Homo sapiens: one gene and its partners. The protein of the gene in region 4 binds, or shares a complex with, the protein of the main gene of each other region. Each region holds a gene or a part of one and is shown on either strand. Other genes may lie near its edges. The genes, in order: DR1, TADA2A, MBIP and YEATS2.

Region 1 (7,632 bases), on a different chromosome or scaffold from region 4:
ACAAGAAACTAAAATATTCACAAAAATGATGAATGAAAAAAAGTGTATTATGTATGATTACATTTACATAAAATAAAAAACAGGCAAAACTAATCTATGATTTTAGAAGTCAGGATAGTAACTTTCAGCAAGAAAGAAGACAGTGTTAAGATGGGGAAAGAGGAGGGCTTCTGGGGTACACATAATGCTCTGTGTTTTGATCTGAAGACTAGTATGTGAGTTTGTTTAATTTGTGAAAACCTTTATTTGTGTACTGTTTTGTGTGTGTGTGGTATATGCAGTTTTAAAAACTGATGCCTTTTAAACACTTACTAATCTGATAATCTGCCGAAAAAGAATATATAACATATATTCAAGGGGATGGAAAAATACTTACTGAACAATAATTTTATTTCTCAAGAACGCTGAAGATTTTGTTTCTCTCTTCAAAAGATTTAAAAAATTTTAACTGGCAAAACATAATAGTGACTCTTAAATGCTAAAAAAAAAAAAAAAAAAAAAAAAAAAAGAAAAAACCTAAAAATAAAATATTGCATAAGTAAGCTTTGTTATGCCTCGATCTTAGGACTGTAAATTATAAAAATACAAGTAAAACCACATTTTTTGAAATAACAGTAAACAAAAACAAAAGGCAGGTACTACATACCAAATGACCAAAATGTCTTTTGGGCCTAAGATTCTTGAAAATAGTAAAAATGGTAATAATAGAAATCTCTCTATAGAACATTAAATATAAAAACCATTTATAAAACACATCACAATTTTATTGCTTGAAGAATACAGCATATGAAATCACAAGAATGTCAAAATGAAAAGTCACTAGGCTTCAAACGTATAATACATTATCAGATGCAGTAAAATATTAACCTGAACTCTGCATCAGAAAAAAAAAAAAAGGTGTGGAAAATATCTAAGTTGTTTACTTAAGAAACAGATATACTTAAAATAGAAAGTATAAGGATGTTACAGTACAAATTAGAAAAGCCAACACGTATTAACTTATCGTTCTAGACTAGACTACCTTTGGTACTTAAACTTTTTAAAAAACAATTTCTTCTATCTCATCCAAATGCACTTCATGGGTATGACATCCATGAAGTAACTTCAACTTAAAACATTCAGCAAAATTAACCTTTTCACTTCATGGGGGAAGTATATTTAATAAATGTATAACAATATTTCCCTTTTACTAAAACTGCAAAATATGATCATTAAGAAACCTAACAGTTATAAAACTTTACTTACTTAGCTCTCCAATTAAAATTGGAATCCTGGGAGCCACAATCTATTTTTGGGCTTGGTGAATACATAAGTTTAAAAGATTTGGCAACTGACATAGGAATTTAATTACTTAATACTATCTTAAGTGACTTTTCCTTTCTGTTTCCAAAATATAGACATTATGCCATTTCTTCAACATCCTGGATTCCTATAAACACTACCATACTGTATTTATTAGAACCAAATTAAAGCTTCTCTAACAAGCAGGTAGAAACTATTTATGTTCCATATACGGCTGATAAGTTATAACACAACTTATGTTTCATATAGGGCTGATCAGTTAATTCATATAGGGCTGATCAGTTGTAACATAACTTCTTAAGCAAAACTAATCTTTTTTTTAAAGCTATCACTCAATTATGGAGACAATAATGTCATCTCAAAAGGTAATGTTGGACTCTAGGCCATCTAGTTGGGAAAATGTAAAAGTAATTCTAAAAACAATAAGTAAACTATAACTACAAGTTAAATTAAAAATCCCTCTCTCATAGCAAGCATGCTCATTAACTTTCATTTCTTTCCCCCAGCAAAGGTTTGAATATTCATAAACCTCAGTTAAACCAAGAGAACCAATGTAATTGTTTCAAAAGTACCACCTATATATTTGAATAATATGAGTATGGATGGACTAGGTAAGTAATACTATCAACAATTACTGAATTGGAGTGAAAGAGTAAAAATCATGACAGACTTCCAAACTGGGCAGTCTTTGAAATGTCATAGTGGAGCTCAAAATGAATTATGCTGTAATAAAACTATAGTTTTTACCTCTACACAAAACAGAAACAAAATAAAAAAACATAACCACCAAATTTATACAAATACTATTAAACATACTCCTTCCTAGTTTTTGAATGTCTTGAAGTTTTTCTAAACAAGTATATTGATCTGAGCATATATATTTATTGCCTATATATGTACTCATTTTAAAAGACAAATTCAGATACTACAGAACTGAACTCTTTCACCAACCCAATCCAATGTCTACTGATTCACACAGCACCCCCCCCTTAATAATTTAAAATTCACAAGTTTTAGTTTAGTTAAAAGGGCAGAGGAAATGCAAATGCAGATTTAGAGCTTTGTAGAAATTTCACTGTATTTTTATAAACTTGAAGTTATCTGTAACACTGTTTATTGATCAAACGAAGGACTCGCTGCTATCTAAAATTTCATAAACACCATTAAAAATTCAAAATTGATATTATACTGAACCTTAAATTTTCAATAGTTCAAAGAGACAGTTTTTACATGTATAGCACACAATAGATGAAACTTAATAGCAGACATCCCTAGAATACCAATGACAAGTCCACCAAGATGCATACAAAATTACAGATAAGCATTTCTTTCACTGTTTTTGTTGTGCAGGGAAAAACATTTATAGAAGAAATAGAAACTCAGCTGGTGAATTTCAGATATCATCATCATCTTCTTCATCCTGAGAAGATCCCGCCTGATTAGATGCACTGGCTGAGGCAGCAGCAAGCTGGGCTTGTTGGGCAGCTTGCTGCATTTGAAGCCATTCCTGTTGGGCCAATTCTGCTTGTTGCTGTCTAGCCTAAACACCCAAAACATAAAAAAAAATAACAATTTTTTACAAACCCACAATATATACACTTTGGTTAAATGTAGATTAGGCCAATTTCAGACAGTTTATTATCATACTTGGATACTGTCCAAGTACTATGTAATTGTCACACATCTGGAGAACATAAACTCTATAGGTAAATATAATTAGAGATTGCTTTTTTCTAACTACACAGGTCTAAGAAATTTCTCAAACTTGGATCTCTTATAAATGGCCCTGTTTTATTTCACGTAATTTATGACCTTTGATTCAACTGAAGAAGTTGAAAAAGTGGAACCAATATTGTGAAAAACCCACAATATTCCCTCTGGCTCTTTCCCTCTTCTTTTCCTTTCATTTCACTTGACTCTTCTGTACCCTCATATTACAACTTTGATACAAACATTTTTCAATCTAAAATTTATTTATATGGTTTAAAAGTTCTCTAGTATAGTACCTCTACCTCATAGGAAAGAAGTACTGTACATGTATGCAGTAGCTACCCCATTATTTCTTTCTGAGTTTCTATTACAATTCCCTAACCTACTATATGCCTATCTCTCTGTGTCCCTCATTCCCTCTCTGTAAGTACACACATTTGCATATACACACATACAAATATACATATCCTTCCCGTATACACACTAGTAAAAAGATACTACTTAAAATCCATTCATCTGATATATCCTCTATTAAAAACAACCACAGGATTTAAGAAACCAGGATGCATACATTATTAATTACCTATGAAACAGCTAAGGCTCCTTCACAATTTAATTTCATCTGTTTGCAGAAAAACCACACCAAGAAGGGAAAAAATGAACCTGTTCTTAAAAAGGTCTTACAATTTCCCATTAGACTCTGCCAAAACAATCCTTTTCTCCTTCTCTGTCTGTTCTTGGAATTGTTCTTTAAGTCCAACTCAGACCCTCCCCTTTATGCATAGCTAATTCCTAGTCATCATCTGAAATGCAAATCAGCTAGTCTTTCTTGACCTTTCCAAGCCATATTTTATGCTCTATTTAATATACCATAATTCCCTATGCATTCCCATATCCATCCACTTTGTTCTAGAATTATCTAAGTTTATATCCTTTTTTTCCACCACACTTGAGAATAGAGATTGTTTCCATATTCTTTGTTGCATTCCTAACATAAAGGCCCTCAGTATTTTCTGAATGAACATGCTACAGGAAAACAGTGATGCCCAGCATAACCAGTAACATTTAAGATTTTACCATGTACAATCCTCACTCTTCTGAATAATCTGTCATGACTTTATTATCCAAACATTTCTAGATATAAATTCTAATCAGGTCACTATTTCATTTTTTTAAAAAAAATCATTTGTTATCAATCAAATCCAAATTTCCTAGCCTAGAGTTCAAGGTCTTCCAAATTAGTGTCTACCCCAACCTCTCTATAGTCTTTTTTTGTAACATGTACTTTGTGCTTCAAAAAAGCCTAGAACACAAAATGTTTCCCAAATATACACCATACTTCCTCATCTTTGCTACCTTTACTCATGCTGACACTCATCCTATGTGAAATTTCCTGCCACTTACTGAAATTCTACCCTTCCTTCAAGTCAAACTGAAATACTATTTTCTCCTCCTGGCATCAGTCAGTGTATAATCAAGAGATAGATGTCACATGAGTTACTGGAATGGAAAAAATTTAATACGAAGAATTGTTAAACAAGTATAAAGTTGTTATTAGGGAGCTGAAAAGGCAGGAAGAGAACATGAAGATGTCATGAAAGTAGCAGCTACAGGAAGCAGCCACCAACCCTAAAACTGAGGGAATAAAGGAAAATGCTGGAATTTTTAAAATTTAGAAGCTTAAGAAACCACTTCATGGAACTGAAACTCAGGCCTCGGAAGAATGGGCATAGATAAGCTAGTACTAATATATCTGCGCTTGGAGGAGGGCCCCAAGGGTTGGGATCCACACTGCCAGAGTGGGGGGATGGGGTGCGGGTTCAGGCTGGTGGTGTATTAGAGAAAATGCAAACCGCGTTCAGTCTCTGCTACAGGAAAACTGATGCAACCAGGGTGAAGAAGTGTTGCTGGGTTGTTCAAAGGAACTGAAAGACAAGAGAAAGTAAGAGAAAACCCTTTCTCTTCCTCCATCCATGCAATCTCCCACGATAGCCCCATATGGCAACAGAGTCTAATGGAGAGTCAGCTAGCAAAGAAACATGTGGCTTGCAGAGTACTAGGTCCAGTCACAAAGCAGAGCATAGAAAGGTGGGTCTGGAGCTAAGATAATTGCTTACTAGTTGGCATACTCCTGTACCCCTAAAATTTGATGTAATGTTTCCATACTTGGGATTTCTTTCTCTTTCCTTCTTCCCTCTTTCTTTCTATTTTTGTAGAGAGAGGGTCTCACTATATTGCCCAGGTTGGTCTCAAACTCCTGGGCTCAAGTGATTCTCCCACCTGGGCCTCCTAAAGTGCTATGATTACAGGTGTGAGCCACTATGCCCAGCCAGAATCTCTTTCTCATAAGTGGTCAGCCTCATATTATAGTTATCTTCCTCATCCAAGTAGTCAGTCTCATAATGATATATTCTTCATTTTTTTTTATATCTATAGTACCACATATGTCTTACATACAGTAGGGACATGTTAATTGAATTCTGACTTGAAATTTGTTGACTGAAGGGCAGGAGTAGGGTGGTGCTGGTGTAGGTGGCAGTAGTGAAGTGGAAGAAGAAAAGCTATTACCTTGGGGGAAAGCTATCCAAGTAACCATAGTATCAGAGACTAATAAAGGAAGAGGTCTACATTAAATGTTATTTTTAAAAAAACAGATGAGTAAGAATTGAAAGGAAAAAAAATTACTGAATTTGGTGATTAAATGCCTCTGTGGTAGGACAGAAGTTAAATTTGAGGAATAAGTGATTGTACATTTTCAAAAAATGGTAGCACTGATCATTATTTATTTATTTATTTATTTATTTTAGAGATGGGGTCTTGCTATGTTGTCCAGACTAAAGTGCAGTGGCTATTTACAGGCATAGTTGTTATGCACTGCAACCTTGAACTCCTAGCCTCAAGGGATTGTCCTGCCTCCATCTCCCGAGTAACTGGGACTACAGGAAGGTGCCACCTTGCTTGGTGGGTAACACAGATCATTATAGCAAAAGATGAAAGGGTTTGGGGGATACAAGGAAATGCAGAAGACCCGTATATGGTTAAAGGCAAAGAGGAAGAAATAAGTAAGGAAAAGACTATAGATATTAGAAAAAACAAGGATAAGACAACTTTTACAGTAAACAAAAACTTCATTTTGCTTAGGAAATTAGAAACCATCCATTCTCCCTAATAATGACTGTCATCCATTTTTGTAAAGAAATAGGAAAAATAGTTGATTCTAACACAATAGCATATTTACTTTTACGGCAGGAATATCCAGAGTTCAAAACCAACTAACAGAGCTTCGCTAAAAACATTTTAAGGCCGGGCGCGGTGGCTCATGCCTGTAATCCCAGCACTGTGGGAGGCCAAGGTGGGCGGATCGCCTGAGGTTGGGAGTTTGAGACTAGCCTGGCCAGCAGGATGCAACCCTGTTTCTACTAAAAATACAAAAATTAGCCAGGCATGGTGGTGCATGCCTGTAATCCCAGCTACTTGGGAAGCTGAGGCAGGAGAATCGCTTGAACCCGGGAGGCGGAGGTTGCAATGAGCCGAGATAGCACCACTGCACTCCAGCCTGGGCAACAGAGCAAGACTCCATCTCAAAAAAAAAAAAAAAATTGTAAGAGTTCATAAGAAAATTGCAGGGCAAATCAAATACATAAATTCAACCAACATAAGCATACCTATATTTTGTGGTCTAATCAACTACAAGTTGGTATAATTTTGTGACATGGAAAAAATTCAAATAATTTCAAGTCTCTACAAAGGTTTTACTGCAAAGGTGCTTGATTTGGTAGTCTATTCAATGGTCTGCAAAGCTGTGTACTAGTTACATTTCAAATTTAATTGACTTTTAGCTACCACGGCCCTGTATCAGCGCTGATACTTTTCTCTGAACATAAAAACATTTCTATGCCTTTAAAACTAACTGTTGAGCTGGGCTCACTAGTGCACATCTATAGTCCCAGCTACTCATGAGGCTGAAGCAGGAGGATCCCTTGAGCCCAGGAGTTCTAGGCTGAAGTGTGCCTGATCGAGCCTGTCAATAGCCACTGTGCTCCAGCCTGGGCAACATGGTGAGATCCTGTCTCTTTAAAAAAAAAAAAAAGTTGATTGATAAAATTTTATTTGTATTCATTTCCACAAATTGAACATTTTTCAGTGATATTTACTGTAATATATTTTTTTCTCTCTTGCCCCCTACTCAATCCATCCCAAGTATTTTTCTTCTAAAATTGGGGTGTGAAAGACAGGTAAGCAGGCATGTATTTCCTAATTCACTTTTCTTTTGGAGGTTTTCATTATGTTTTAAGATTCTCACTCCCACATATTAAAATGACTCATTTATAATTTAAAGTTAACTTTAATCTTGATGTATTAAAGGTTCCCTCCTTCCAAATATTTGCTGCTAGCTTCAAATGAGGCTGTCATTGTGTTAATATTTAAAGTCTAAAAAATGAAACAAAATGAAAGTGATAAAAAAGATATATTTACTTATCCACTCTTTCATATTTAGAACTTCAGTGCTCTAGGGAAGAAGTACTAGGCAACTGCTATAATATTACCTCTCCGCTGGTCATCCTCACAATAGTAAAGAAATACTAGAGATCTTCATACATAAGTCAGGGTAAGAAACAA
Region 2 (7,632 bases), on a different chromosome or scaffold from region 4:
GGAGGATCACTTGAGCCCAGGAGTTCAAGACCAACCTGGGTGATATAGTAAGACCTTGTTTCTACCAAAAAAAAAAAAAAAAAAAAAAAAATTTCTCCAGGTTTGGTGGCATTCACCTGTAGTCCCAGCCACTCAGGAGCTGAACTGGGAGGATCACTTAGGCCTGGGAGTTTGAGGCTACAGTGAGCCATGATCACATACTGCACTCCAGCCTGGATAGTAGAGGGAGACCCTGTCTCACAAAAAAAGAAAAAAGAAACAATGAACAAGTCAGTGCAGATAGTACAGAGAACAAAAATATATGATCATGTTAGCCAGTTCCTTCATTTAATTTAATTAATTAATTTATTTATTTTTTGAGATGGTCTTAACTCTGTCACCCAGGCTGGAGTGCAATGGTGCGATCTTGGCTCACTGAAACCTCTGCCTCCCGGATTCAAGCGATTCTCCTGCCTCAGCCTCTGGAGTAGCTGGGATTACAGATGTGTACCACCACACCCAGCTAATTTTTATATTTTTTTTTCAGGAGAGATGGGTTTTCATCACGTTGGTCAGGCTGGTCTCAAACTCCCAACCTCAGGTGATCTGCCCGCCTCAGCCTCTCAAAGTGCTGGGATTACAGGCATGAGCCACTGCACCTGACCCAGTTCCTTCATTTTAATTAGCCAGTATTAACTTAGTTGTATTTAGATTTTGGGGGTAGAGTGTTGGCAGTAAGAAACTTACAAAATAAAACTTTGATTTCACTGTCTTAGCCACTCCCCTAAAACAATACCTTTTTCTTCTTTCCATATTAAGAAAAAATCACTTGAAATAAAGGAATAAATGGGGGAAAAAAAAAAGTCCCTTCAGTGACCAGGCGCAGTGGCTCATGCCTGTAATCCCAGCACTTTGGGAGGCCGAGGCAGGCAGATCACCTGAGGTCAGCAGTTCGAGACCAGCCTGGCCAGCATGGCGAAACCCCATCTCTACTGAAAGTACAAAAATCAGCTGGGCATAGTGGCAGGCGCCTCTAATCCCAGCTACTTGGGAGGCTGAGGCAGGAGAATCGCTTGAATCCGGAAGGCAGAGGTTGCAGTGAGCCAAGATCGCGTCACTGCACTCCAGCCTGGGTGACAGAGCGAGACTCCATCTCAAAAAAAAAAAAGTCCCTAACGCGGACAAATCTGAGACCCAGATTCTGAATCTACTGAGACATACCTCCCCCAATTCCCAGTCATCGATTACCAATCACCAAGGATCATCAGATAGCGTATGGCTTAATCTTGCTCTGTATACTAATTTCAAAATAGGACATACTCAAAGAGGTAAAACGAAGAAATAGAAATACTTTAGGTCTCTAACTCAGAAATCCTTATGTTTCTGGCAAGTAACATGCTTCTTTGCTCATGTTATATAAAAATAAAAAGTTTAGGCTGGGCACGGTGGCTCACGCCTGTAATTCCAGCACTTTGGGAGGCCGTGGTGGGTGCCTCACTTGAGGTCAGGAGTTCGAGACCAGCCTGGCCAACATGGCAAAACCGTCCCTACCAAAAATACAAAAATTAGCCAGGCGTGGTGGTGCATGCCTGTAATCCCAGCTGTTCGGGAGGCTGGGGCAGAAGAATCACTTGAACCCGGGAAGCGGAGGTTGCAGTGAGCCGAGATCACACCACTGCACTCCAGCCTGGGCGACAGACCGAGACTCTGTCTCAAAAAATAAGTAAATAAATAAAAAATAATAAAATAAAAAGCTTTTAATTTATCTCCTGTGAAATAAGTCTCAAAATTAGTGGTAGACACAACTGCAGTAAACTAACTGCTCATGAACATTGGTAAAATAAAGAAGTTACCTCTCTGAAGTTCTTTTTTCCCCTGTCTCTATACTGTCTATACTCTATACTGTCACTCTGAGGATAGTCTCTGTCTGGCCATGAAGGTTCTGAAAACATACTGATGTTTATATATTGGGCTAACACTTGATTACTGTTACTCTGCCTAAGCACCCTGACACCACAGAGGAAGGAAGATTGCTGGGTCACTATAACCCCTACGATGCAAACTTCACAATTAAGACTTGTTCTGGCCTGAGAAATAATTACCTGAATTCGAAGCCATTGGAATGGAAGGACTCAGGCCGGAATCACTACAACGAAGAAGAGGAATTTAAACTTAGGTCATATCAAACAAGGTGATTTCCAAAAGCCCCGGTGAGACTGGGTGCCATTTATCAGGTAGGTCACCTTGAAGAAGTGTAATGAGATAGACTGAACTATGTTTTACAGATATCTCACTGTATTGAGCAGGAAAGAAAATCTGTTCTGAGGAAGAAAAATTCCTCAGATTTGTTAAGAAGAGCTTGTAATCTAGAACACCACTAACACCACTCAAGGGGAAGGGATACAAACATGATTCCCCAGTGAAAATCTAGGTATGAAGAGAGAGTTGAAGTCATGGGTAGAAGGCTGGGGGAAAATACACTCATTTTAAAAAATAGGATCAAAGTAGTAAAGTATGATTCTAGGAGGTCAGTTATTTCTCAAAACTGTCAGTATGGCACTGTTTCTGAGATGGACTGCTAAAATATTTCTGAATTCTTCCAGCTACTCAATTATTATTACTCTGCCATCTAGGGTGCCCAAAAATATATGTGAAGGCCAAGGCATCCCAGAAAGAATGCCTCCTTCACCCTGGAGTAATTACTCACATGTCAGCTTGCCGGCGGAGCCACTGCTGGCAAGCACTACTGTCCTGGATATACTGGAGAACTTCTGAGAGCATAGTGCGTTTAAGGCGCTCTTCCTCCCGTGTCTTCTTGAGGTGATCGTAGGTTCTGGCACCTGGGGGTATAGAAAACACAATGACCACAATGACAATGCAGCAGAACTGAAGGGCTTCCTAACTGACCAAGAAACCGGTTTTGGGTTTTGTTCTTAAAGTCTGTTTCCTTTGCAAAACTGCTTTCACAATTATTTCTCCAAGACCCAAGTAGATTTTCCCTAGTCTGAAATCCTTTTCTTAATACTAAGTATTAAATATTAAACATTTGTATTCCTTTTCTATCTGTAAGAAATAAGGGGAAAAAAACCAACAGAAAAGTACAAAGAAAGTAAGAATTGCTCATATTTCCACTCTCAAAAAGTAACCAACTTTTACTATAGTCATATTTGCTTCCTGTTTTTTCTATTTTTATAAATTTTTTCAAAGTCACACAAGTGCTATAAGCATATGCCTTTCCTTAAAAAACAATTAGAATTACAAAAAAAGAGTTCTCTTTGACATGTAGTACCTCTTCTCCATATTTCTTAGAGGCAGCCAATATCAGGAAACCAAAATTAGTTATCAGAGTCTCTATATGCATCTTGCTAAACAGAAGAGCTGCGTGGTGTTTTCTACATGTTAACAAAGGTTCACAGATTCCAAAATACTGCACCAGTGGGTTTCAAAATTCAAACTAGGTTCCACAGAGCCCCAGGATACCACAAGAGTATCTTAGAGGTTAATGTAAAGAGAAAGGGCACTGCCAGATACCGGCGGGTCCTGGGCTCTACACATAAATTGAACCATTAAAGTTCAACCAAAGTAATTCCACTTTTATCTTTTTTTGAGACGGAGTTTCGCTCTTGTTGCCCAGGCTTGAGTGCAATGGCGCGATCTCGGCTCACAGCAACCTCCACCTCCCAGGTTCAAGCCATTCTCCTGCCTCAGCCTCCGGAGTAGCTGGGATTACAGGCATGCGCCACCATGCCCAGCTAATTTTGTATTTTTAGTAGACACGGGGTTTCTCCATGTTGGTCAGGCTGGTCTTGAACTCTGGACCTCAAGTGATCCGCCCGCCTCGGCCTCCCAAAGTGCTGGGATTACAGGTGTGAGCCACCGTGCCCAGCCCACTTTTATCTTATTTGTAGATTGGGGCTCACACAAAATTTAATTTCAAAAATGGTTTCCACTGTTAAAGAGCCATTATACTAGGCTGAACTTACATCCATAAGGCTATGTTGCACCCACAGGGCTGTGTTAAGAAGCCAACTATTGCCGGGCGTGGTGGCTCACACCTGTAATCCCAGCGCTTTGGGAGGCTGAGGTGGGTGGATCACCTGAGGTCAGGAGTTCGAGATCAGCCTGACCAACATGGATAAACCCCATCTCTACTAAAAATACAAAAAAAAAAATTAGCCGGGTATGGTGGTGCATGACTGTAGTCCCAGCTACTCAGGAGGCTGAGGCAGGAGACTCGCTTGAACCTAGAAGGCAGAGGTTGTGGTGAACCAAGATGGCACCACTGAACTCCAGCCTGCGCAACAGAGCCAGACTCCGTCTCAAATAAAAAAAAAAAAGAAGCCAACTATTTCTTATAGATAGTAGGTGACAACTATCAATAATCACAAAAACTTCAAATAGGAAGAAGGAGGGAATGCTAAAGATCATTTCAACAATGACAGCAAAACAACAGAAACTGCCATTTATTGAGGAATTATTGTGTGCCAGATACTGTGCTATGCTTATATGCAGTATCTCTAATTAAATCTTTACACTAACTCTAAGAACCTTAGAAAATTAAAACTTGAATAGAGGCCAGGCACAGTTGCTCACACCTGTAATCCCAGCACTCTGAGAGGCCTAGGCGGGAGGACTGCTTGAGGCCAGGAGTTTGAGACCAGCCTGGGCAACATAGCAAGAGTCAGTCTCTAGGGAAAAAAAAAAAAGGAAAGAAAAATAAATTTGGATAGAATCACATCACAGAGCTGGCAAGCTGGAGAGCCAAAATTTATACTCAAGCTTTTTAAGTCTAGACCCAAGCTCTTAACTACTATAATACACTATCTCTTATGACCTGGTTCTAGTACTAACTAGCTCTGTAACCTCTTTATACCTTAATTTCTTCACTAAATGGAAGTAACGGTACTTTATAAGTTTGTCATGAGAATTCATTGACTTGATCCAAGTGAAATGGTTAGCATAGAGACTGGTACATGGTAAATATCTGATAGATGTTAGCTGCTAATAATATAATTATTGTCACTACCCCAAGTAACTGGGATGCAAGCACCTGGAGCCAGTTGAAGCTTCATTATTTTATAAAAATGCTAAGACCATGTATCATTAAATTTGAAAAGGGTGACACACCTAAAATATAAAATTCCTTTTTTTTTTTTTTGAAACAGAATCTCCCTCTGCCACCCAGGCTGGAGTACAGTGGCACCATCTTGGCTCACTACAACAACTGCTTCTCAGGTTCAAGCGATTCTTGTGCCTCAGCCTCCCGAGTAGTTGGGATTAAACGTGTGCACCACAACGCCTGGCTAGTTTTTTTATTTTTAGTAGAGGTAGGGTTTCACCATGTTGGTCAGGCTGGTCTCGAACTCCTGGACTGAAGTGACCCACCTGCCTTGGCCTCCCAAAGTGCTGGGATTACAGGTGTGAGCCACTGCACCCGGCCCAAGATTCCCTTTTTTTAAAGAGCCTCGGCAGAATCCTAAATCTAAAGCAGCACCTCTCTTTCCTTTGTCTCACAACTTTTGTAGTACCAAAGATAATCTATACAAAGGTATTTATAGGGATTAAATAGCCAAAACTTTACTGGAAAGGTTTAAAGCATTCTGGTAAAGGAAAGCTTGTTTTTTAAAAAAAAATTCACAACAATTCAGAGACTTCCTCTGTGTGTCTGGAAGATACTTGCCCTCAAGTACGGTATGTAGCTGAAGCATACTTACTACAAAAATTGGTAATGCCTGCTGTCCTGTATTCTTGGAGCCTCTTGATTTCCCTTCGGAGTTCAAATTCCACTGTTTTCCCCAAAAGGAATGAAGGAAAAAATTACAAAAACAAAAGCAACATTAGTGAGCACTTTTGCTATTGAGCATTTTCATTAATTCTGCCTTATAAGACTAGGGAAGTTCATTTGGAGAATCCTACTCGTTGGTAACTTCTCATTAGAAATTTTACCCAAGAGCTGAGGAAAACCTACTCCAGCTATCTTCCAGCTGCTGTCTCCAGATGCAGCAGCTGGAACTGTCTTCTAGAAAACTTAGTGAAATGGTTAAATTCATTTGTCTACAAAAGTAACAATTTTTTTTTTCTTTTTTTGAGACAGAGTCTCGCTCTGTCGCCCAGGCTGCAATGGCATGATCTCGGCTCACTGCAACCTCCACCTCCCGGGTTCAAGCAATTCCCCCTGCCTCAGCGTCCTGAGTAGCTGGGATTACAGGCATCTACCACCACACCCGGCTAATTTTTGTATTTTTAGTAGAGATGGGGTTCTGCCATGATGGCCAGGTTGGTCTCGAATTCCTGACCTCAGGTGATCCACCCGCCTCGGCCTTCCAAAGTAGCTGGCATTATAGGAATGAGCCACCGCACTGGGCAAAATATAATTTTTTTAACAACCAAGTTTCCCTGCTCTAACTATCTTCTATTAAAAGTTCTACAAATCATTCTAATTTGGCTGCTTTTGAAACAGAGAATGAAGGAAGAGCCTGGACAATCCATGGGGTGTAGTGTTTTGGAATGACACATAAACCAGGGGTGTGTCCCAAACTGGGACAGGAAGTAAAGGATCAGTCACCTGGTACAAACCACACAAAGAATGCTAACCAAACAAGGTGTTTGGTGAGGACAACCAACCTGGCTCAGATAAATGTCTGCAATGCTATGTAAGAAATATTTTCACGGTGAGAATAAGGGCCTTAGTAGACTACCTTCCCAGAACTAAACTTAGAAGCCACATACACAAATGTCATGATGAAAGGTACAGAACAAGCCAGAGTCCATATTATTTTAACAATCTAGGCCTTACTGCCATACCAACATATTTTGTTTTGAAACAGGGTCTCACTCTGTCGCTCAGGCTGGAGTGCAGTGGTGTGATCTCAGCTCACCGCAACCTCGGCTACCCGGGTTCAAGCAATCCTCCCACCTCAGCCTCCAAAGTAGCTGAGACTACAGGTGTGCACTACCATGCCTGGCTAACTTTTGTATTTTTGTAGAGATGGAGTTTTACTATGTTGCCCAGATTGGTCTCGAACTCCTCGACTCAAGCAATCCTCTTGCCTTGGCCTCCCAAAGTGCTGGGATTACAGGTGTGAGCCACCACGCCCGGCCTCATAACAACTTTTAATTTTTTATAGTGAAAAATCAAATGGTAACTATGTAGAGCTCTCACAGAAATACCACAGAAAGGCAAGAGATCGATGGAAGTACTATCTCCACAAGCTATCCATCTCTGTCCTCATTTTTAAAACTACTTTTAATACTAAAATATTTATGAACAAAATAAAATGATGTCTGGGATTTGCTTCAGAATAATCCAGTTGAGGGCAGGAGGGAAGAGTGAGTGGTAAAGATGAAACCAGACTGGCCATGTGTTGAAAACTGCTGAAGCTGGATGATGGATACACGGGAGTTCATCATATTATTATCTCTACTTCTATATATATTTGAAAGTTCCCATGATACAAAGTAGGGAGAAAAACTACTAAATTATTGTTTATCTGGGGCAATGGGGGAAGTCATTAGGGCTTTTTAACCTCTCTTCTGCCACCCCCATAGTCCCAAATTTGTCTCATGGTAATAAAGGGGAACAAAGAGAGAAATATCCATTTATTTATTTATAGAACTTCACATAAAACACACCATTATCTCTCCTATTTATAT
Region 3 (7,632 bases), on a different chromosome or scaffold from region 4:
GAAACCTAGATGGTACACACCTAGGCTATATGGTATAGTCTATTGCTCCTAGCATATAAACCTTATGGCATGTTTCTGTATTGAATACTGTAGGCAAGTGTAACACAATGGTATATGTGTATCTAAACACGTCTCAACATAGAAAAGATACAGTAAAAATACCATACTATAATTTTATGGGATCACTGTAATATATGCAGTTGACTGTTGACTGAAACATCCTTATGCAGAGCATGACTGTCATACACACGTTCACGCACATGCACACACACATATGAATCCAGGGAACCAGTGCTCTAAGGAAACTCAAGGGTAAGGAGGCCTCTTCCATGACTGGCTTGCTTTCTTTCAGTTGTAAAAGGCAACTGATTCTATGCGTGCAGTATCTAAAATGTTTTTCTTCCCTTCTAGTCCCAGAGCCCTGATTCAGACCTTCATTTCTCTCTGGCTTGGATAATGACATGTTTCCTAAACTAGTTTCCTTGACTCCAATTTCTCTCCAACTCAGACTTCATAATGCCACCAGACAGGGACCTAAATTACAAGTTTCTCTCTTTCTCTAAAACTTAATTGTGCTCCAATGATACTAGAAGTGCAAACTGGTTAGTGTGACCTTCAAGGCCCTCTGAAATATGTTTACAATCTAATTTTCTAGCTGAATCCAGTTGTTCACTCATGCTTCAGACCCACCACACGTTCACACGCACATGGCCTGTGTACATGATGTTGACCTGATTTTCAGCATTCCCCTCCCCCGATACTTCCCTTAAGAACCAGGAGTTACTGTTACAGACTAAAAATTACTCTCAGTCAGTGCTTTGAACAAAGTTAACACACCTTCAAAGTCCAATAATGAGCTATCAGCCAAGTCCTATCCATTCATTTGCACATCTACTCGATATTGACTACATTCTGTGTCTCAAAGATGAACAAGACATAGTTCCTGCCCTTGAGAGTTTCAAAATATAAAGTGAAAAACATGTATAAACATATGAGTGATAAATGCTATAAACTAAACAATATACTTGTAAAAGCATGTTGGTACTTACTGTTTTCAAGTATCATAATTTAAAATCAGTAAGTCTTTGGAAATACTCTAAGATCGTTCTTTTAAATGGACTGTTAAGGCCATGCCCTTAAACTTTTGAAAACATTACATTTAAAGCTTTCCATGGCTAATGTGAAGAATAAAGATCTTTAGAACTCTTATATCAAAATGTCCAACAAGTATTATTAACTTTTGTCATAAATCCTGTTTTATACACATATAACTTATTTTGGAGTTTTATGTCTGGTCGTAAAATGAGAACTTTACATAATCTGATTACATTTTATAAAACAAATACAAATGACATCTTTTTTCCCCATAAATATTTGTTTTTCTATGCTACGCTTCAATGTTACCCATGATAATCAATCTCTATCCAATTGTAAGAAGCTCCCCCATGTTTAGAATTCATCTACATGTGAATCTGAATAAACACATTTCAATGAAAATCTTTTCAGAGTTCAGGAGTTCCAACAAAAGTTCAATCCTTAATAAACTGAATGGGCTCAACTTTCCTTTCCTATCTTTAGAAGCTATAGGACTGTGCTACATATGTAGTTTCTTCTGTATACTTTTGAGGGATAAATATGTAAAATTATGCAATTACCATGCATGTACTCCCAGCATGATGGTGAGGGTGATGAATAATGTACTATGTCCTCTGTAAGGTATGTGCTCAACTTCTCCTGTTTGCAAGGACACTCTTAGAGCTGACTGTATTCCAAGTGAGGTTCCTAAAGATGGCTCATTCATCCTATTATAGAAGGGTGATGAGTATGAAATCTTCTTTCCCATAGGGCTTGTGTCATGTATGTTCACAGGCCTAAAGGACAGAATGAGTCTGAATGTTTAAACTTTCCAGTGTTTTGTTCTTCCTTGTAGCTCACTACTAATTTAATGTGTCACTTACAACACTAATCCAGAAGAACTGCAGTTCTTCTAAAAGATATATAGTTTTTTTTTTTAACATATTTGGAAATACTTTTAAAAATCACCTGTTTTATCACAGGTTGCCACCATCCATCCTTTTCTGAATGCTTAATACATATATGCCAATCCTCTGTTTACATTTACAAATGCTTCCTGCCCCTGAAATTAGGCAGTCACCAAGCTTCAGACTTCAGGCCTCAGACAATCTGTGTTCCTATCCATCAATGGACTCTCACACTACACAGACTCTCCCAATTGTCCCAAGTGTAAGTGCCGTATCTCAAAAAGCTTACCTGATGTTTTTACCTTCATAACCTCCTCTGCCTTCAAATTCACATTTCCCACAAAAGTATCTCTCTCTCTAGATTTTCTTATTTCTATCAATGATGGTATCATTTTTCCAACCAGAAACTGGACTCTATCCTTGTTCTCTGTCTCTTTCCACATCCAATCATCAGTATTTGTCCATTTTTTTTCCTACTTGCATTAATCTTTTCCATTCTCACTCATGTCCCTATTTTAGGAACTAACTTCACATCTAAGCTAGCATAATACTATCTCCTTATCCTTAGTTTCTCTCGTTTGTCTCCCACAACTGTATTAGATAAATCTTTCTAAATATCGTGTTCACAAATCACTTCTCTGCTCAAATGCTTTCAGTAGATTCCCCCTGCTGCCTGCCTGGAAAATAGATTTTAAACTTCTGAGCATAGCACTTAAGGTCCTAACAATCTGGCTACTTCTACCTCTTTACCCACTCTATCCTATCTGTAACAGATCAAAACAAAACAAAAAGATTATGATGTGGAGGGCTTTTTTTTTTGTTAAACACATCTATAAGTTTTGTTTTTTTTGTTTTTGAGACCGAGTTTTGCTCTTGTTGCCCAGGCTGGAGTGCAATGGCGTGATCTTGGCTCATCGCAACCTAAGCCTCCTGGGTTCAAGCGATCCTCCTGCCTCAGCCTCCCAAGTAGCTGGGATTATAGGCATGCGCCACCATGCCCAGCTTATTTTTTTTATTTTTTATTTTTTTGTATTTTTAGTAGAGATGGGGTTTCTCCATGTTGGTCAGGCTGGTCTTGAACTCCCGACCTCTGGTGATCCGCCCACCTTGGCCTCCCAAAGTGCTGGGATTACAGGCGTGAGCCACTGCATCCGGCCTCTGTTAAGTTTTTATAAATCAGAATCAGAGAGAAGAGAGGAATGATGCTGCAGCAAGTTCTCATTGGAGGCATCTGATTTTACCATACTCTATTGTAAGATCGGTTCTATCGTTAATAAGAATTATATTAACAAGGTATGAAATTGAACTAGAAAAATAACTTTCCTAGGTTATTGCCTTCTTTAATGAAGGCAGTTAGAATGGGAAAAACTTATGGTAGACTACTGTAGGAAAAGTCATTAAAAATCTTTATGAAGTCTCCTAGGAAGACATTCAAAGAATAATCCTAAAAGTGAAAAGACCTTTGTAATTATGTAGTACAACCAATACATTTTCTAAAATTAGACATCTTGAAGATCAGAGGAATAGAGTGACTTTTCCACGTTTATACAGCTACTTTGTAGTTATAAAACTAAATAAATGCCAATGAGGTTTTTACCATGTGCTAAGCAGTATGCTAAGTGTTTGATCAGCATTATCTCATTTGATCTTTGCTTCAGCCCTTAGTATTTTCATAAACCTCATTTTACATTTGAGAGTAGTAAATCACTAAAACTCTTCTCTGAAATTTTGTCATTTAGGACTTGCTGCTCCCTTTTGTTACGTGACCTGCCTTCTTCTTCTGGAAATACTTCTTTTCTGTAACTCACTCTTATACTCAATCTATAACTTTGGAAGATTGCTGTCATACCTAAAATAAATTTTAAATATATTTTCACCACTAACTTATATGATCCATGCTAAAATGGGCTATCTCACATAATTTTTCAGAAATAGGAGTTTTGGTATAATCTCACTTTGATATTATTTTAGTTCTAATATGGTACTGCTTTAAAAAAAAAACAAAACTTAGAGAAGGCAGGTATTATACATAATCACCTCAGAAGACTGAGGAAAACACAATGAGCTCAGGATCATTTTTCTGAAAAATGTTGATGTGCCAAAGATACTAACTTACCAGCACAACACTGTTTCTTAAGGTTCTTGGAAAACGGGGTAAGAATGAATGAATGCTAGAGTTAAGGAATTACAAAAACATAGAAAGTCTGGTGGTTAAGGTAAAGAATAAGAGTGGCAGCTTGAGGTGTGTGTTTGTTTAGTATTAACTGCATATGAGCTGAGAGAAGGAGCCTGTTGGGGAAGAGAGATTAAAGAGGCAGAGGGATCACTGAAAGAGCAAGGTTACAGAGGAAGCCTCTGTTTTACAAGGTAGCAAGTTCAGAGTAACAGGCCCAACCACCACCCAGGCTGACTTACTATGCCATGAAAATGGCCTAAGTTTGAGAATGTGGGTAATATATAATAGAAGTATCCCTTTTTAAAAATTCTAAATTTTAAAAATATTCAGAACCAGAGATTTTAAGGAATTAGATATATCCCCTATACAGGACTGTGTTCATTCATCTTTGAATTATTAAAATAGTGTTTTGCTTATAGATCAATGAGTGACTGTTAAACCACAAAGAATCCAGAATACAATAACATTTTCATTTATTTTTAAAAGACACTTATACTCACTACAGACTGAAAATATTCAGGAGAGATGCCTTCCAATTCAAGGATTTTATCCTCAAGTTTTTTAATTCTCTGATAAATGTCTCTTGGCACTGGACCACCTAAATACATTAAAAAAAAATCTGAGATACTATTGAATAATTCTTTCTTTTCACAATTTTTATTCTTAAAATACCATGCAAAGACACTTATGCAAAGGAATGGAAAATACTTAAGAAAATAAAAAACAAAAGTAAAACAGAATGAAGTCCTTAGGTCGTATTTTTGTATTATACACTATCGGACATATTGTACTACACTTCCTCTCTCCAAACCCCATTTATGCTTCCTATATTCTAGGAGTTTCATGTTAAATTCATTTTACAAGATATTGAATAGCTTCCATGTAGAACAATTTATATTTCTGATATGCTTTGATAGTTACATGGGAGGACAAAAATGCATAGTGACAAATGACGATAATTCAATGCAGTGGTTGCAATATGTCATATTATTTTCTTCAATTAATATTTCTCCCTACATGCCATATTTTTCCTTTGACCTAAAAGAATGTAAAAAAGGGGCTTTACCATAATTCTAAACTAACAAACTTTCTGAGGAGGGGAAGAGTAAATTATGGCCACTCAAATTTTAAATTTATGATTATATCAAGAATCCTTCTACTTCTCACCCCCTCCACACTGTGGCCTTTCTGGTCCAGACCACTTCCACCTCTCCCTGGATTACTGCAACTCCCAAACTGGTCTCCCTGTTTCTGCCATGCTTCCGTAGAGTGTATTTTCAACACAGGAGCCAGTGATCCTCTAAAAATATAAGTTAGATCACATCATTTCTCTGCTTCCAATACCTGATCATTTCACTGAGGTTAAATACCTTCCAATACCTGATCATTTCACTCAGATTAAATACCAAAGCCCTCACAATGGCCTACAAGGCCATACACAATGTGGATATTCTCCCTATGCCCACATGGTTCCAGCCACTTGATTACTTTTTTTCTGTTATTCAAAGAGGCCAAGCACCCTGTAAGCTTCAGCTGGTTCCCTCTACCGCCATAATCCCAAGTCAATTTCAAGTCTTGGCTCAAAAGTTACCTTATCAGTAACACCTTCTCTGACTATTCTGTTAAAAATACCAGTACTACCACTCCCCTACCCAGCACTCCCTTATCCTCCTTACCTTAATTTTCTCCATTCCATTACTACCACCCAACATTCAGTATATTTTCTTTCTGTATTATTTGTTTCCCCATTCTAATATAAGCTCCAAGAGGACAGAGTTTTATCTGTTTTGTTCATTAGGTAGGGCTGTGCAGCTTGTGCACTGCACAAACCTAGGAAGCATCAGTTCATAAGACTACAATGCATGGCAAAGAGCTGGTGCTTGATATTTACTGACTGAATGAATACATGATTAGCCAATCATTATGCAATTAAAGAATACGGGTAAATTTCTATATCAAAATTGTCAACTTGTTATGTAAAAATTCTAGAAATTTTGAGGATTTTAAGAAATCTTAGGACCTTGGTTGTTCTTGTTCTTAAATAAGTTAACTTGTTCATTTGACTTTGCTTTTGCTGCTCCCTTTACCTACAATGTCCTCTGCCTTACTTCTGTATCTTTCAAGAGCCAGTTCAAGCTTCACTGGGTAACGCAGGCACTGCCGAAACCTCTTCATTCGCATAAAGGCTCCTTGTGCCCCCACCATTCTTCAGTGCTCCTGAGTTTTTTGGGACAGACTCTCACTATACTGTCCAGGCTGGTCTCAAACTCCTGGACTCAAGCTCTGTTCCCCACTCAGCCTCCCAAGGAACTGGGATTATAGGCACACACCACTACACCCATCCTTTCATTACTCCTTTAAAACTCTACTTCACTATTAATCTTTCTCTCATTTGGATTATAAAGTCCTTGAAGCTGGGGACTATGATTATATCATCTCAGTATCCCTTGTGCCTAAAATAGTGCTTGGAGCATAGTAAACATTCAACAGATATTTTTCCAAAAACTTAACTGTTTCATACTATTATTAGAGACTTAACCAGTCAATCCTTTTATACAGTGGCATTTTAAACCCATCCACTTCTGAGGGAAGAGATTAATTCTTAATGCCAGTGTCTTATTACTCTCAAAGACTTACTCATTCTGTTTTCTTCTTCTACCTTCATCTGGCTAGCATAGCTTCAGATAGCTAGTATACTCCAGCTATACTGGATTCAGATATCTCCTGAACCATATTTTGTGTTTTTGTCCTTTTTTGCAAATGGTGTTTCTTCTTTTTGGAATGCTTTGCTCTGGAAAATTCCTACTAATCCTTCAAGGCCTCAAATGTCACTTCATTAGGATGCCATCATCCCTTGACCTACCCTGAGAGAGTCAAACACTAACTTTCTGTCCCTCCGTACATACATCTGCAAAGGTGAAATAAGCAACTGTCCATTCAATAAACATTTGAGCACTTGCTTTGTGCCAGGCACTGTAATAGGTACAAAGAAATGAATATGACAGACATAGTTGCACTCTCACGGACTATCTAGCAGGAGACAGACATTAAACAAACAGAACCATGATAACTGCTTTAAAGGGGAGCAGGGAATACCAGGTGCTATATAAGATTATACAAAAGGTGAATCTGCACTGGTCTAGGATTAGGAAGAAAAAGCATGGACAGAAGGGCATGAGTATAAAGATCCTAAAGCAGCACAACGAGTGGGAGATGGGAAGCCCAGAGGTGTAGCTGGAACTACAGATGTGGACAATACTATTTAAAATTACAAACCCCCTTCAATCCCAATCTCCACATTTTTAGCTGGGAAGAAACAAGATCAAATTTGAGCTTTAGAAAAAGCAATCTGGCCACAGGGTAGAGATGATCTAGAGGAGTCCAGTGGCAAAGAAACCAGTAAATATCCTTCCATCAGTCCAAGCCAGAGATCACAGTGGCTTCAACTCTAGTAGTAGCAGTAGAGATAAGACA
Region 4 (8,192 bases):
AAAAAAACTTAGCCAGGCGAGGTGGTGGGTGCCTGTAGTCCCACCTACCCAGGAGGCTGAGGCAGGAAAAGGCGTGAACCCGGGAGGCAGAGCTTGCAGAGAGCTGAGATTGCGCCACTGCACTCCAGCCTGGGCGACAGAGCGAGACTCCTTCTCAAAAAAAAAAAAAATTTATATATATATACACACACACACACACACACATATATATATACACACACCAGTTAAAAGAGTGCAATTCAGTGGATTTCAGTATATTCACAAAGTTGCACAAAAATCACCACTATCTAATTCCATAATGTTTTCATCACTCCAAAAAGCAACCACTTACCTCTTAATTGTCACTCTCAATTCTCCTCTCCCTTCATCCCCCTGGCAACTACTTTTTGTGTGGATAAACTTGCCTGTTTCTGGACATTTCGTATAAATAGAATCATACAGCACGTGGCTTTTTGTATCTGCCTTTTTTTTTTTTTTTTTTTTTTGAGACGAAGTCTCCCTCTGTCGCCCAGGCTGGAGTGCAGTGGCGCGATCTCCGTTCACTGCAACCTCCACCTCCCGGGTTCAAGCAATTCCCCTGCCTCAGCCTCCCGAGCAGCTGGGATTACAGGCCTGGGCAACAGACTGTGATTCTGTCTCAAAAAAAAAAAAAAAAAAGAAAGAAAAGAAAAGAAAAAGAAAAAATCTGCTTCACAAGTCTTGTTTTCTGTGAGAAAACTGCATCAACTCCCACCATCTACTGGGTATCACGACAGAAAACAGACTGAAAGCAGAGCAGGACCAAAGGCAGGGAGATAGGGAACAATCCAAGAACGTGGCAATGAACATTCAAATAAAAATCCGTAGTTGATGAGAAGAGGACAGGACCAACTATTTCTGAGAATCTATTCTAAGAAAATACAGGGTAATGTACATCGTATGTGGGCTACACTCAGAGATCTACAACCTAAATGTTAATTCTCTTCTTCCTATGGATTTTATAATAAAAAATAACCCACAGTAAAATATCATGCATCCACTGAATGAACATGAAGCATTTGAAACTGAGAAACATGTGGGGAGAACTCTGCATGCTGTATGTCAAGCTACCTATTTTTAATATCTAAAGAACTTTTGACAATCAATTAGGAAATAACAAAAGATGACAGAGAACAGGAAAAGAAATTCACAAACAGCCAATAAATGGGAAAAAAATGTTCAAACATACTAGTAATCAATAAATGAAAAAAACACAAGACACCATTTTTCATCGATTAAGTTTAGTTTTGGGGCAGATGGAAATGGGGCACTTTTTTTCTAATTTGCACTCATTAGTTTCATTTCCTCACATCCGGTTCCCACCTCCCACTTCCAGAACTATGGACAGGAAGACCAATGACCAAAACCAATAACCACCGTGTTGCCAAATTCAATTGACAATCTTAATGAACATCTCAGAAGCCCTGATAAAAGGACCAATTCAACATCTTCCAGAAACACCTCTTTTGGCTGCCATGATACATGCCATTTTGGTAGGAGCTTTTTCTCCTACCTCACTTGCTGTTTCCTGCGTCCTTTCCCCAACCTTCTTCCTCTACCAGACCTAGAGGTATTTGAGTGTCTGCGCCCTTTTCACTTCTCCACACTCTTTCCCCTCAGTGATCTCACACAGCACCATACCTTTGAATATCATCTACGTACAGATCACTCCCAATTTTTTTTTTTTTTAAGAGACGGGGTCCTTCCTGCCTTGTAGCCAAGGCTGGTCTAGAATATCTGGGCTCAAGCGACCCGCCTCGGTCTCTCAAAGTGCTGGGATTTCAGGTGTGAGCACCGCGCCCAGCCACTCCCAGATTTTTATCTCTAGCTCTAGCCTCTCTCCTCCTTGAGTTCCAGCCCTCTACATCCAACTGCCTCAACACACCGACTTCATAACTAACATGCATCTAAAATTTAATACATCTAAAATAGAATTCGTTTTTCCCACCTCAAATTTCTCTCTTCCATTCTTCATCTCAGTAAACAGCACCACCACCTACTCAGTTGCTCAAAACAAAAATCAAAAAAGCAAAGATTCCCACCATTCCCTCACCAATCCAAGTCTTGTTCATTCTACCTTAAAACATTTAAAAATCTGTTTATACTTCCCCATCTCCCTGCCACGGGCCTAGTCCAAGCTACTGCAAAGAGCACAGTAACTGACCTCGTAGGTTCCTCCCCAGCCCTCTTCCTCTACATAGCAGTCGGATCATGCTACTCGCCTTCTCAAAACCTTCAAAGGCTTCCCGGGAAAAACTAAACTCCTTATCAGGGCATCATCTGCCCTATCTTTTAAAGAGTATACACAAACAGGAATATACATCCAAGGGTAGTATCTCTAGATCGTAAAACTGCGGGCATTTTTCTCTGGCTTTGCTTGTATTTTTAAATTTTTCTACGCTGAATACCCTCTACTCATTAAGAAAGGGGAAATGATATTGCTGAATTCTATATAATATTATACCGCATTTTTTACATGTGAGCGAGAAAAGGGAATGGAAAACGTGGGTCAACTCTGTAACTGCTGAATGCTTAGATGAAAATACTAGCCAACATCAAACTAAAAAAAAATGATGTGTCAGGCCTGTAAGATTGCTGATGGCATTTCTCTTCCTCTGGTTTCTATTTCTTAACATAATCACATTCATGATGGAGAAAACCTCATTGTCTTCTGCAGTCTGGCCACAGCCCTTCAAGCCAGCCTTTCCTGCAGGAGTCCTCACTTTCCGAGGCTTCCACTCCGCCCCGCACTGCCCGCAGCTCCGGCGCGTTGGCCCCGGCCCCATCCCTGGACCCCCAAAGCCTCTCTGACCCCTCCCCTCCATCCCAGGGAGGCCCGGTGGGGATGGCGACAGGTTGGAGGGGCATTCCAGGATCCTTTCGGTAAACCCACGACTTTCTGGTGCTGGGGCCAAATCTTGCCTCCAAGGCCAAGAGCTTAACATCCTAAAAGCTCCGGCCGCTGTGGCTCGGGGTCCCGTATCCCCTCAGCGCAGCGCCCCGCTGAAGAGGAAGCCCCCAACTCACGTTCCAATTCCAGGCTCCCGCTTCTGCGGCTCCCCGGCCCGCACCTGGGATCCTCCCTGCCCTCCCCTCGGCCCCGGGGCCTCACCGGGTCCCGCTGCCGCGCTGCCTGCCGATGGGGGAGGGGCGCGCACGTGCCCGCGCCGCCCCCGCCCAAACAATGCCCCGGAGAGCGGGGCGCGCTCCCGGCCGGTCCCTTCCTGCGCCCGCCAACACTCACCCTTTCTCCGGGTCTCCGGCTGCAGCGCGGGCCCCGCCGGCCGCCGCGAGAGAGCACGGCGAGGTGAGAGAGCGGGCGAAGCCCCGCGGAGCTGCCCCGCCACAAGGCCCCAGCGACCCCCGCAACCTGCGGAAGCACACGGCGCGGTGGAGCCCGCCCGGCGCGTTCCGCCCCGCACGTCAGCAGCTGGGCGCGTCGGGGCGCGCGCGGCGGCGCGCGCGGCCTCGGGGCGGAGCTCCCAGGGATGAGGGCGGGGCGGGGCGGGGCGGGGCTGGTCCGGGCTGGGACCCCGGCCCGCGAGGGCACTTCCTGGGCAGTGTGGGCGTCGATTCTTGCAAAGGCACAGTCGTCCATCACTTTCCTGCCCCAGAAGATGGCGAATTTCAACCCCAAGTTTGACAGAATATTCATTCTGCCGGCGTGTATGAGCTTCCCTATTAATCACAATAGTGACTATGATGTTTGTGTGTGCCATCTTTGTGCCAACCCATGTGCTAAGTGCTGGGTATACAAAATAACAGTAGTTATTTCTAGCCCATTTTACAGATGAAGAAACTGAGGCAGGGAAGGCTTGAGACTTATCTCAGTCACACTAGCTAGTGACAATCCAAGTCCAGTTTTCCACCTAAATATCACTTGAGGCCAACATTCTCTTTCGTTGTAACTCTACCACCCTACCCAAGACCCTGTAATCTCTCTGCCCAAGACTATGAATAGCCTCCCAACTGGTCTTGGGGAACTTCTGTTCCCCTTCAATCCCTTCTCACTGTATAACGATTTACTACTGGAGCTGAGTGGTGGGTTTAGGAAGTTCACTTTTTTTTTTATACTTTACATACATGTTACCAAATTTTTAATGTATTTAATGTTTTTATCAACGCATAATAAATATAAGTGGTGTTTTGTTTTTTGTGTTTTTTTTTTTTTTTGAGATAGAGTCTCCCTCTGTTGCCAGGCTGGAGTGCAGTGGCATGATCTTGGCTCACTGCAGCCTCCGCCTCCCGGGTTCAAGCGATTCTCCTGCCTCAGCCTCCCAAGTAGCTGGGATTACAAGGCGCGCGCCACCACGCCTGGCTGATTTTTGTATTTTTAGTAGAGACAGGGTTTCACCATGTTGGCCAGGCTGCTCTCGAACTCCTGACCTTAGGTGATCCACCCGCCTCAGCCTCCCAAAGTGCTGGGATTACAGGCGTGAACCACCACCCCCAGGCTAATTTTGGTTTTTTTAGACAGGTCTCACTATCACCACAGCTAGTCTCACACTTCCGGGCTCGAGAGATCCTCCTGGCTGGGCACGGTGGCTCATGCCTGTAATCCCAGCACTTTGGGAGGCTGAGGCGGGCGGATCACCTGAGGTCAGGAGTTCAAGACCAACCTGGCCAACATGGTGAAACCCCGTCTCTACTAAAAATACAAAAATTAGCCAGGTGTATTTGGGCATGCCTGTAATCCTAACTACTTGGGAAGCTGAGGCAGGACAGTCACTTGAACTCGGGAGGTGGAGGTTGCAGTGAGCCATTGCACTCCAACATGGGCAACAAAAGTGAAACTCCATCTCAAAAAAAAAAAAAACTAAGAAAGGCTTCCTTGAACCTTAAGCTAAGACTCAAGAGATAATAGGAACTGGGGAGATAAACAAATTTCATGGAGAAGGGGGTGAGGTCACAGGTCAGGATGAGTGTGTTGGTGTTCCCCTACTCTTAGGGTTTAACAGTGAGGTGGAAAGCATAGAAATACCCAGATAAGTGCCAAGAAAGCTAGAAGCTGACTTCCCTTGGTGTAGCTTGGAAGGCTGTCCAAGTCTGTGAGAAGGCTCACACAGTAGGGCTTGGGAGCAGGCCATGGCGTTGGGAGGAGTCTGCAATAGTGCTGCTGGAGCGCTGCAGCTTGCACATTTAGGTATGTCAGAATTCCAGACTTCTCTTGTTGCTCCCTGCCTGGCATGCAGAAAGTAGCATGGTTAAGAGCCATGGACAGACCAATAGGCACTGTGCCAGGGGGCAGGTTTCCTAAAGCAGAGGCCTTGTGGTGGGCTGATGGCCAGGGAATGGCTACAGAACGTAGCTAAGACCCCAAGGATAGGCAGTACTGAAGATACCAGTGGAGCTGAAGCACCCCTAAGTCAGCTGGTGAGAGGAGCGGGGATGGAGGAGTGGGGATGAAAGATGAGACATCAAACTCTGAAGGTGCTAAAGCAACAGGTCATGAGCTTGCCAACCAACCACCTCAGCAGCTGATGCCTGCAGGGCAGTGGAGACCAGAAGTCACCAGAGACATAGCAGCAGAGGCCAGTGAGAACCCAGGCTATAGCTTGAAATCCCGCACACAGATCTCCCCTCCCACCGCTGCCTTGAGGCTTCCCCTGTATCCTGTAGGCCGCCTTGGGAAGTCAAGGGGAAGAAGGGTAAAGTTCTGATAAGACTACAACTTTGAACTGTTTACCCAAATATTCACCAAAATGAAACTTTTTTTTTTTCTTTTGAGACTGAGTCTTGCTCTATTGCCCAGGCTGGAGTGCAGTGGTATGATCTTGGCTCACTGCAACCTCCGCCTCCTGGGTTTAAGTGATTCTCCTGCCTCACCCTCCCGAGTAGCTGGGACTACAGGCGCGTGCCACCATGCCCGGCTAATTTTCTGTATTTTTAGTAGAGACGGGGTTTCACTGCGTTAGCCAGAATGGTCTCGATCTCCTCATCTCGTAATCTGCCCGCCTCAGCCTCCCAAAGTGCTGGGATTACAGGCGTGAGACACCACACCCAGCCTATTTGCCCTTTTAAAAACATCACTTGCAGCTGGGCGCGGTGGCTCGCGCCTGTAATCCCAGCATTTTGGGAGGCCAAGGTGGGTGGATCACCTGAGGTCGGGAGTTCGAAACCAGCCTGGCCAACATGGTGAAACCCCATCTCTACTAAAAAAAAAAAAATGCAAAAATTAGCTGGGCGTGGTGACACATGTCTGTAATCCCAGCTACTCTGGAGGCTTGAACCTGGGAGGTGGAGGTTGCAGTGAGCCGAGATCATGCCACTGCTCTCCAGCCTAGGTGACAGAGTGAGACTCCGTCTCAAAAAAAAAAAAAATCATTTGCCCCAATGAGTAGGTGGGGAATGACTGAAGAGGTGTGTGAACATAGAAGCAGTGAGACAGTTGGAAAGCAATTTCAGTCATCCAAGCAAAAATTGAGGGTGGCACTGGTCGTGGTGGCTCACACCTGTAATCCCAGCACTTTGGGAGACGGAGATGGGCAGATCACCTGAGGTCAAGAATTCAAGACCAGCTTGACCAATATGGTGAAATCCCGTTTCTACTAAAAATACAAAAAAATTAGCTGGTCGTGGTGGCTTGTAATCCCAGTTACTCGGGAGACTGAGACAGGAGAATCGCTTGAGCCCAGGAGGCAGAGGTTGCAGTGAGCCAAGATCGTGCCATTGCACTCCAGTCTGGGCAATAAAAGGGAAACTCCATCTCAAAAAAAAAAAAAAAATGAGGATGGCTTACCCTGGCAGTGGAGATGGTGGGAAGGAGATAGATACAAGAACTATGGAGAAAATACCAGAAGACTTGATGACGATGAACTGGGAGGAGACTGGGGAGAGAAGGGAAGGGGACTGGCCTCTGCTAAGTCAAAATGGCCTCTTAGATAAACTGCCCCTTCCTCCAGGCAGACTCAGCTCTGCTCTGGAGCTTGGCAAGTGTTTAGAGGCTGGTTTTAGGCTCCTGGCTAGCCAGGCTCCCTTAGGCAGCACTCACCTGCACAGCCACTGGAGGTGGGCCTGGAGGGAGAACTGGGGTTGGCTCATACGTTTCCAGCAGTGGCTGATGGTGGATGATGGTGTCATTTCCTGAAAGGAGGGAGACTAAAGGAAGAACAGATTTGAATGTTGGGGGTGGGAGAATCAAGAATTCCCTTTGGGGCATTTTAAGTTTGAGGCATCCACTCGAATACTTTTTTTTTTTTTTTTTTTTTTTGAGACAGAGTCTCGCTCTGTTGCCGAGGCTGGAGTGCAGTGGTGCGATCTTGGCTCACTGCCACCTCTGCCTCCCGGGCTCTAGCGATTCTCATGCCTCAGCCTCCCAAGTATCTGGGATTACAGGCGTGTATTACCACACCCGGCTAATTTTCATATTTTTAGTAGAGACGGGGTTTTACCATGTTGGCCAGGCTGGTCTCGAACTCCTGACCTCAGGTGATCCACCTGCCTTGGCCTCCCAAAGTGCTGGGATTACAGGCATGAGCCACCACACCTAGCCCTGAAGATATTAAATCTGTACATAAGGCTTTGGGGCTCAGAAGAGACCTGATGGGTGGCACTGTCAACGTACTGTTGTCAACAGGTAGTTAATGAACACTGGTGAGGTTGCCATGAAAGAGTACAGTTCAGAGAGATTGCGTAGTCACAGCCTACAGATGTCACATTTTGTTTTAAATGAGCCAACATTTCAAACACTGACAAATTTCACATAATACCCTGAATTTCTGCTTCTATGGAAAATCAGAAACTGTGGTAACCTGGCCATACGTTGTTATTTTTTATTTTATTGTTATTTTTGGGGGGATGAAGTCTTGCTCTGTAACCCAGGCTGGAGTGCAGTGGCACGATCTCGGCTCACCGCAACCTCTGTCTCCCAGGTTCAAGCAATTCTCCTGCTTCAGCCTCTCGAGTAGCTGGGATTACAGGCGCATGCCACCACATCCGGCTAATTTTTGTATTTTTAATAGAGAAGGGGTTTCACCATGTTGGCCAGGCTGGTCTTGAACTCCTGACCTCAGGTGATCCGCCCACCTCGGCCTCCCAAAGTGCTGAGATTACAGGCGTGAGCCACCGCTCCCAGCCCATACATTGTTATAATTGGATATTAGCTATTAATAACACTACTTACCAGGCAGTGCTCCAAGCACTTCACAAATTTAATCTTTGTAACAACTTTATTA

What was found.
Region 1: YEATS2 (region 4) and DR1 share a complex: the UniProt entries of both Homo sapiens proteins name them as parts of the ADA2A-containing complex.
Region 2: YEATS2 (region 4) and TADA2A share a complex: the UniProt entries of both Homo sapiens proteins name them as parts of the ADA2A-containing complex.
Region 3: YEATS2 (region 4) and MBIP share a complex: the UniProt entries of both Homo sapiens proteins name them as parts of the ADA2A-containing complex.

Annotation. Positions count from the first base shown.
Region 1 is NC_000001.11:93,355,703-93,363,334, reverse strand, and holds part of DR1 (protein Dr1), read right to left. Parts: intron 2,843-7,632; coding exon 2,696-2,842; 3' UTR 1-2,695. UniProt on the Homo sapiens protein: The association of the DR1/DRAP1 heterodimer with TBP results in a functional repression of both activated and basal transcription of class II genes.
Region 2 is NC_000017.11:37,465,587-37,473,218, reverse strand, and holds part of TADA2A (transcriptional adapter 2-alpha), read right to left. Parts: coding exon of another isoform or gene 7,583-7,632; exon of another isoform or gene 7,564-7,582; intron 5,766-7,563; coding exon 5,694-5,765; intron 2,820-5,693; coding exon 2,687-2,819; intron 2,126-2,686; coding exon 2,082-2,125; intron 1-2,081. UniProt on the Homo sapiens protein: Component of the ATAC complex, a complex with histone acetyltransferase activity on histones H3 and H4. Required for the function of some acidic activation domains, which activate transcription from a distant site. Binds double-stranded DNA.
Region 3 is NC_000014.9:36,303,434-36,311,065, forward strand, and holds part of MBIP (MAP3K12-binding inhibitory protein 1), read right to left. Parts: intron 4,757-7,632; coding exon 4,659-4,756; intron 1-4,658. UniProt on the Homo sapiens protein: Inhibits the MAP3K12 activity to induce the activation of the JNK/SAPK pathway. Component of the ATAC complex, a complex with histone acetyltransferase activity on histones H3 and H4.
Region 4 is NC_000003.12:183,693,064-183,701,255, reverse strand, and holds the start of YEATS2 (YEATS domain-containing protein 2), read right to left. Parts: upstream 3,460-8,192; 5' UTR 3,263-3,459; intron 3,179-3,262; exon of another isoform or gene 3,046-3,178; intron 1-3,045. UniProt on the Homo sapiens protein: Chromatin reader component of the ATAC complex, a complex with histone acetyltransferase activity on histones H3 and H4. YEATS2 specifically recognizes and binds histone H3 crotonylated at 'Lys-27' (H3K27cr).